Linked DNA regions of Homo sapiens. The protein of the gene in region 2 purifies or fractionates together with the protein of the main gene of each other region. This does not show direct contact. Each region holds a gene or a part of one and is shown on either strand. Other genes may lie near its edges. The genes, in order: RAB18 and AGK.

The links.
Region 1: the proteins of AGK (region 2) and RAB18 purify together in Homo sapiens (affinity purification with mass spectrometry; 2 studies listed by BioGRID and IntAct, with this or other methods). This does not show direct contact.

The regions. Positions count from the first base shown.
Region 1 is NC_000010.11:27,502,540-27,506,459, reverse strand, and holds the start of RAB18 (ras-related protein Rab-18), read right to left. Parts: upstream 2,157-3,920; 5' UTR 2,091-2,156; coding exon 2,023-2,090; intron 2,016-2,022; exon of another isoform or gene 1,736-2,015; intron 1,482-1,735; exon of another isoform or gene 1,368-1,481; intron 1-1,367. UniProt on the Homo sapiens protein: The small GTPases Rab are key regulators of intracellular membrane trafficking, from the formation of transport vesicles to their fusion with membranes.
Region 2 is NC_000007.14:141,652,239-141,655,893, reverse strand, and holds the end of AGK (acylglycerol kinase, mitochondrial isoform 1 precursor), read right to left. Parts: intron 3,108-3,655; coding exon 2,970-3,107; 3' UTR 650-2,969; downstream 1-649. UniProt on the Homo sapiens protein: Lipid kinase that can phosphorylate both monoacylglycerol and diacylglycerol to form lysophosphatidic acid (LPA) and phosphatidic acid (PA), respectively. Does not phosphorylate sphingosine. Phosphorylates ceramide.

The DNA.
Region 1 (3,920 bases), on a different chromosome or scaffold from region 2:
AGTCCAGCTACTCAAAAGGCTGAGGTGGGAGGATCACTTGAGCCCAGGAGATTGAGACTGCAGTGAGCTATGATCATGCCACTGCACTCCAGTCTGGGTGACAGAATAAGACCCTGTCTCAAAAAAACAGCGGGTAGAGCAGAGGAATTTTGTTTATATACTCCAGTTAACCTTCCAGAAAATTTTAACATACCCTAACTTGTCATCCATGCAATACATTTAGAAAAAGTGCTAACCAACCATGTATTGGGTTGAACTACATGAAATGACAACCAACCATTCTTGACTTCAAAAACACTAATTTCATATGCCTGAACTTAAATGAGAACGATATCTCAAGGAAAAAAGGAGAAAAGAAAAAGAAAGATCACAAGGCTGTGAAATTCCTATTAAGACAACGTTTAACTTTTTAACACTCAAATATGTATGTGCAATAATAGATGATCATGTAAATAATTTTACTCATGCCTTTTACACACACACAGACAAATCATGCTGGTTTGCTAACTCATAGTATTTCATTATTCTATTCCTTGGTATGTGCAAATCCTTCATTCCAGTAGACACAGAGGACATTACATGAGGAACACTATGAAAATGTGTTGTCAAACTGGTGGCTCACGCCTGTAATCCTAGCACTTTGGGAGGCCGAGGTGGGCGGGTCACGAGGTCAAAAGATGGAGACCATCCTGGCCAACATGGTGAAACCCCATCTCTACTAACAGTACAAAAGTTAGCTGGGCATGATAGTGCGCGCCTGTAGTCCCAGCTACTCGGGAGGCTGAAGCAGGAGAATCGCTTGAACCCGGGAGGCGGAGGTTGCAGTGACCCGAGATCGCGCCACTGCACTCCAGCCTGGCAACAGAGCGAGACTCCGTCTCAAAAAATAAATAAATAAATAAGTAAATAATATCAGAATATATTACATAAGCTTTCAAATTCTGAAGAAGCTTTTAAAAAGTAAGACTTTATGAAGTGACTTTTACAAGTTATTTGAGGAGAGCTTTCATTCTAGTTTGTAGAATTAAGGCTATTTCAATTTATGAAATACAAAAAATTATTTGAAAGATACGTGTATCAGAAGGTATAGCTAAAATATGAAACTGATTACAGCCCCTGGAGTGCAAATGTGGTTTAAGGATCAGGACGGCCTTGAACATAACCTACTCATAATCAGATGGCAAGAATGACATCAGCTGGAGAACTCTCTTCCAAGACCTGGATGAAATCACAGCCCTCTAGCAACATCCACCTAGATCCATGTCTTACCTTATACTCAACTCCACTGTCAATATTATTTTCCCCAAGGAAAAAGTAAAAAATGAAAGCACAACACTAATCTTCTGTCTCCACAGGATGTGGCAAAATGAGAAATAACAATTACATTTTATTTTCAAAGGTGGCCCACGGCTGAAGCACTCGGACCTTACACTAAAGCGAAATTTTCCAGCAGTCACAAGATCCAGTTCTTTCACAGCCGACTAATAAAAAAGTAAAAGAATCGACATTAAGCTGCGCCCAAACAGGCCAGGAATGGGACCTAAGGCGTCACGAAACTTCCCGAGGACATTATGTATTTAGAGAAGGCCCCACAGAAACCCTCAAGTGGGAAAGCTATGTCTCCCGGGTCTCGGGGTGGCAGGCAGCCTGAACCCCGAGAGGTTCGAGGCAAGGCGCCCCCGGCCGGATTCGGGCCCAAACCAGCCCGCCACGCCCTGAGCTCCGCGCAGCAAACCTGCCGGCCGAGCGGCGGCCCTCGGAATGGTGTTTTCTCGGCGCTACAGGAGGGAGAGCGACCCAGAGAACTTGGGCCTGGCAAAGGCCGGGAACCAGGCAGGCGCGGGTGGGGAGAGGAAAGCAAACGTCGCGGGAGAGCGCGGCCCAGAGGCCGAGGAGGGCGCGAGCGGAGCCGGCCCGAGCCCGCCGCTGCAGTTTACAGTTCCCGTCGCGGCCCAGGAGACAGCAGCCACCGGGGCAGAAAGAGCCCAGCCACCCTCGTCACGACCCGCACCTCCGCCTCACCTGGACTTGCCCACCCCACTCTCGCCGATGATGAGGATCTTCAGGGTGGTTAGCACGTCCTCGTCCATCCTGACCCCGTTCCGCTCCGAGCCCAGCTGGCCGCCCGGGTGCGCCTCTCAGCCCTTCAGCAGAGTGAGCTGCTGCGCATGCGCGCCGCTCCACGTCTGCCACCTTCCTTTCACACCGGGTGTTCAGGCTGCCGAAGCCCTGGACTCCCCAGTTCCGCCTTGAGGTAGCTCCACGGCTGCGCGACCCAGAATCCCCGGCGTTTTTCCGGACTGCGTGTTCCTCCCCTGCGCAAGCGCAGGTGGGGAGCGCTGTGTGTGACTTTGTTGGCTTCTTCTTGAGGTCTAGCTCCGCCCCAGCCTCAACCTAACCCTCCTTTTGAGTCAGTGGGAGGACTCAGTCAGGAGAATATCAAGCTGTTTTATTTCGGCAGCTGCTCATAACAGCTGCACTGCGGTGGGAAAAGCACTGTGCTTGAAGCAGATTATCTTAAATTTAGGTCCAGCTCTACCTTATAACTGCCTTGTCATACTACCCAGCTTTCTTAGCCTTTCTCCATCTCTGAGAGACACAGTAACACTTCTTAGAACATCTGCTTCTTATTGTTATGAAGGTTAAGTGAGTTAATTTGTGAAGACATGTTGTTAACCAAAGTGCTCTATAAAAGGTGTGATCAGGTATTATCTTGCTGGCTTCCCCTCTGTTATAGTGGAGAGCACCCTCTGCACCCTAATTCATCTTGAAAGGGAGGCGTAGACTTCAGGTAGGTCAGGTGCATTACTTCTGGCGGTGCAACTTCAAGTCAACTCTCCTTCCTCATAAGAACTGCTACACCCATACTGCAGGAAGTGTATGTCTACACCTTGCCTCCTGCATTAAGTTGTAAATCTTAGTGAAGGTACCAAACCTCATTCATAATACTTAGCACAGTGCCTGGTACATGGCAGGCACTCAATAAACCTCAGTTCTCTTGTCTTATTTCCTTATACCTGCAGCTAATGTCATATACAATGGATATTTGATTAAAGACTACATATAAATAAAATTTCAAATGTTAAGAAATTAATTTGTTAAATAGCTGGAAAAGCCCTTTCAAAAGATATCCCAATGGCTTCTCCTCCTTCAGGTCTTCGCTCAAATGTTGCATTCTTAAAGAGGCCTTCCCTGTCCATTCTACTGAAATATGCAAATCCCTCCAGCATTCTCTAGACCTCTTTACATTGTTTTTCTGCATAGGATTTAACCACTCTCTGATACACTATATATTTTACTACTTTATTAGAAGTCTCATGAAGGCAAGGATATTTTGTTTTGTCTACTGGTATGTCTTCAGTATCTAGAGTACTTCATGGCACATAATATGTGCTAAATAAATGTATGCTGAATGAATTAATTGAATGAATGTTGTAGAGTCCATTCCTAACCTTAGAGAATAATGTCAATGAAACAACCTCCACTTCTCATCAGATAGCCCTTGAAACTTCAGTCAAGTCTATCTAGCTTACTTTTCATTATGACAAAAAGATCTTATTTATGAGGTTCACAGTATTGTCAAGCTCTCCTGCCCTGGGGTCCCGAGATCCCTAGAAATCCCTGAAAACCTTTCAGGGGGGTTGCAAGATCAAACTATTTTCATAGTTAATATGTTATTTTTTCATGCACATTCTCTGATGATAATATAATGGAGTTTTCCAGAGGCTATATATTAATAACATGTAATAGCAAAACAGATTGAAGGCAGAACAAGATATGTGAACTTACTGGTTTTCTATGATATTAAGCCAGATATTAAAGGGATTTCCTAAAATGTAAAACATTGCCACTGTTCTCAATTTTGTTCTGTTTTAAAGTAGTTATTTTCATAAACATTTCTATTAACTGGTAATAGGTTT
Region 2 (3,655 bases):
TGTGAGGGAAAGGAAAAAAGCTTTATTTAAAACCCTATCTTAATAGAAAGCAACTACGGTTTTTTTTTTTTTTTTTTTTTTTTGAGACGGAGTCTTGCTCTGTCACCCAGGCTGGAGTGCAGAGTGGTGCGATCCCGGCTCACTGCAACCTCTGCCTCCCGGGTTCAAGCGATTCTCCTGCCTCAGCCTCCAGAGTAGCTGGGACTACAGGCACATGCCACCATGCCCAGCTAATTTTTGTATTTTTAGTAGAGATGGGATTTCACCACGTTGGCCAGGCTGGTCTCGAGCTCCTGACCTCAGGTGATCCACCTTCCTTGGCCTCCCAAAGTGCTGGGATTAATCTTTGCATTTGAGTGAAATTAATCTGTCAAAAAGTTTGTACTAAACAATCACCTGGGAAGGGTGGCCGACTTCCCAATGCAGATTCCTGGGCCCCATCCCCAAATTGGGTTATTAGGATCTCCTCCAGATAGCTCAGCATTCCAGCTTTGGCTGACAAGCCTCACTCAGCTGACTCTCTTTTAGTTGCACTATTAAACGTCTTCCATGCAGGCTTTATAGGGAAGGACAAGGCAAAGAACAAAGCAGTCAACAATAAGGAAACCAAGCCCTCACAGGAAAGAAAGCCTGAATCAAGAAAACAAAGTTTGAAACAAGGCATATTTATATTTAAAAATGAATAAGATTCTAAAGTGGCTTCCATATCCTTCCCTAATTATATGTACCATTATGATTAGAACCACAAAATGAGCACACATAAACACACACTGGTAGCCTATCAGAAAAGAAAGCCAGATTCTGCACTGGTCCTTGATATTGTTACAGAACCACGATATGCTAAATGCTCTCAGCTCAGGTGAAAACTTTTGTTTTCATATACTACAGCATCCTTCCTCCCTACCTGTGGGTGGTATGGGATGAGTGATCTTTATGCTGATGTTTGGAACCGTCTGTTATGTTTTTGCCAAAAGCAGAAATTTTACCACCCTGAAGAATACAGTATGAAATAAGAAAGCCTTCCTTTTTGTGATCTTCATTCATGGACTTTTCATAGCTGTTCTGTAATCTACTAAAGCATTGGTCTCTCTCCATGGGATGTGTGGGCATGGTGTATGTATCTTAAAAGGGATCTGCCTGAGAGAGAGCCTGTAGCTAAGGCCTGCCAGCTCTGCTTCCTCCCCTTCCCCCTCGCAATCCTCCCTCATTGATCTATCTTCCTGTGGTGCACTGCCCCCTAGAGTGTAAGAACCTCAGGGCCACTGAACAAAGGAAAATGTCAGCGATAGTAAAAGTAAATGGTGCTAATGACTGGCTGGCAAAGCCATGGTAAATCAGGTGGATTTCAGTTCTCTGCTTTCAACAGACTAAAGGAGAATCTAATCAAGTTGTTTGTTAGTTGATAGATCATCATTAATAATTCTTGATGATAGAGCACTGTGATCTTTGTCAAAATGCCAAAGGAATCCAAAGAACTGTAAAAACATTGTTAACGTAATTCTATTCCATCGAATTTATGTGCTTACATCTATACAGAAACAAGGAATACAGCTGAGGTTGAACCCCATCTCAGCTGTAAATCACATTCATGTATTCTTGGATAAATGAACTAATTAGGATAAAGAACATTCTAATAAAAAAACTTTTAATCATCCAAGAATTAATACCGTTTTCATTATATACCAATAATTAATTACGATAATATTGGTTCTGGACTGAGATAACAAACAAACACTTAAAGCAAGAGCTAAAAAAAAAATTTCCATTTATATTTTTTGTTGACAAGAAGTAATGGGGTGAATGATTAAAAGATGTCGGGCATAATAGATTACATTATGATAGGATTCTTGGCTGAAAAGTGGTATGGAAATACAGAAGGAGAAAAGCCAATTTGAAATGTTTAACTACTAAAGAACTAGCTCATTTATTTTTATAAATGAATGAAGGGTGTCAAATTGTTGTGATATTTAAATTGTACTGGATATGTTTAAAATAGTGATGTAACAGTTTTTATTTTAAAATACCAATATTTACACGACACCAGCAAATACATACTTTGTCAACTATTTAACTTCCCATGAAAAATTTTAGATACCAACTTAGATAAAATTTTAGATATCAACTTAGATGGGTGAGGGTATACATGATTTTTCAAAATACTTTTGGGGGCACATGAGCAGAATACTTTGTGGACTACTGCTTTAAAACACGATTTCTCCAAGTACAGTTGAGGGACAACTTACAGAATCACCTGGGAAGGGCAGATGACTTTTTAAAAATGCATATTCCTGGGCCCCATCCCCAAATTTGGGTTATTAGGTTTGGGGTAGACCCCAAATAAGTTTTCAACATGTACCCCAGGTGGCTCTCATGCAAACCATTTAGGAAGCACTACTTAAAAAAATAAATAAAAACTAGCATTTTCCGGTATTGTAGCCGTGGCTGAAGAGGGAAACAACCTCACATATGTTTCTGGACTGAGGTTAGAACTGAAATAAAAGCTAAACAGGAGCCGGAGCTCACAAAATAGCAGCACCTGTGGAGGAGCCTAGACATAGGAAAAGGTCACCAGGGCAGGAATGCACTTTCCTGGAATTCCTAGCACGGTCAAAGAAGAGAAATGGAAGGGCCTAGGCAGGCTAAGCCCACCGTGGGCTCTCCACTGTGGTTGCACTTTGGAAGAAAACAGAAGAAAGTCCTTTTCCGTCTTGAACCAGCCTGAGGAAAGTCCGTGTTTAGGAGGGCCAACCGTCACACCAAAATAAAACATGCGCTAATGGAAGCCGATTGCAAAGCAGGTGACAGAGCACACTTTGGGAAGCACTGCTGGAGTGGGGGCAGAGGGGTACTTGCCATGAAAATGCCCTGGGGACCCTCTGACGACACTGTTGGGATGGCTGAGGCACCTGTTCCCTTTTGGTCCCACCGGTGGCCTAAAGTGTGGTCTCAGAGTGCTTGTCTTCTGCTGCTCACTGGGTGGGGCTTGTGAGCATCTGTTCTCTCTTCCTAGGATCACAGAAGAACTGCAGCTTCCTGGGGAGCAGTTTCACCTCCACAGGCATCGCTTCATACTCCTCACTGTCAATGCTAAAAGAGCCCCCTGCTCCCTGGGGAGAAGAGAATATTCAGAACAGCTCAAACACATCAGTGGCCTACTGGAGTTGGAGGTCTCACAGCAGCACCAGAAGAAGTTCATTATGGAAAACAACATCCTCTCTTGAGGAGCTATCCTAATGTTCTTTTACAAAAAAAAATTCAGTGCCTACTACGATGGGCACAGTGCTGGTTCTGGAAACATCCTAATTCTACCATCCATGAAAAAGGATTTATTTTCTTTTTTTGGCCCCTATCTCCTCCCAGAGTATTTTGGGATTTGAACAACATGGTTATAATTTTCAAATATGTATTAAAAGGCAAGGGTCCTGCCATGTCTTAAGGAACTCATATACATAGTCTTTCTATATTATGCTAATCCTTCTCAAATAAAAATAAAGACAGCTAATTCTCTTATGACATGCTATTGTATCTGCTGGATCATTTTCATTATTCTCTAAGACTTGTTTAGCTTGATATACCCAAGGTGTATCAACATTAATATCATTACAGTCTATGAAACCCTTCCATAACTCATGCATTTAATTCAATATTTATATCG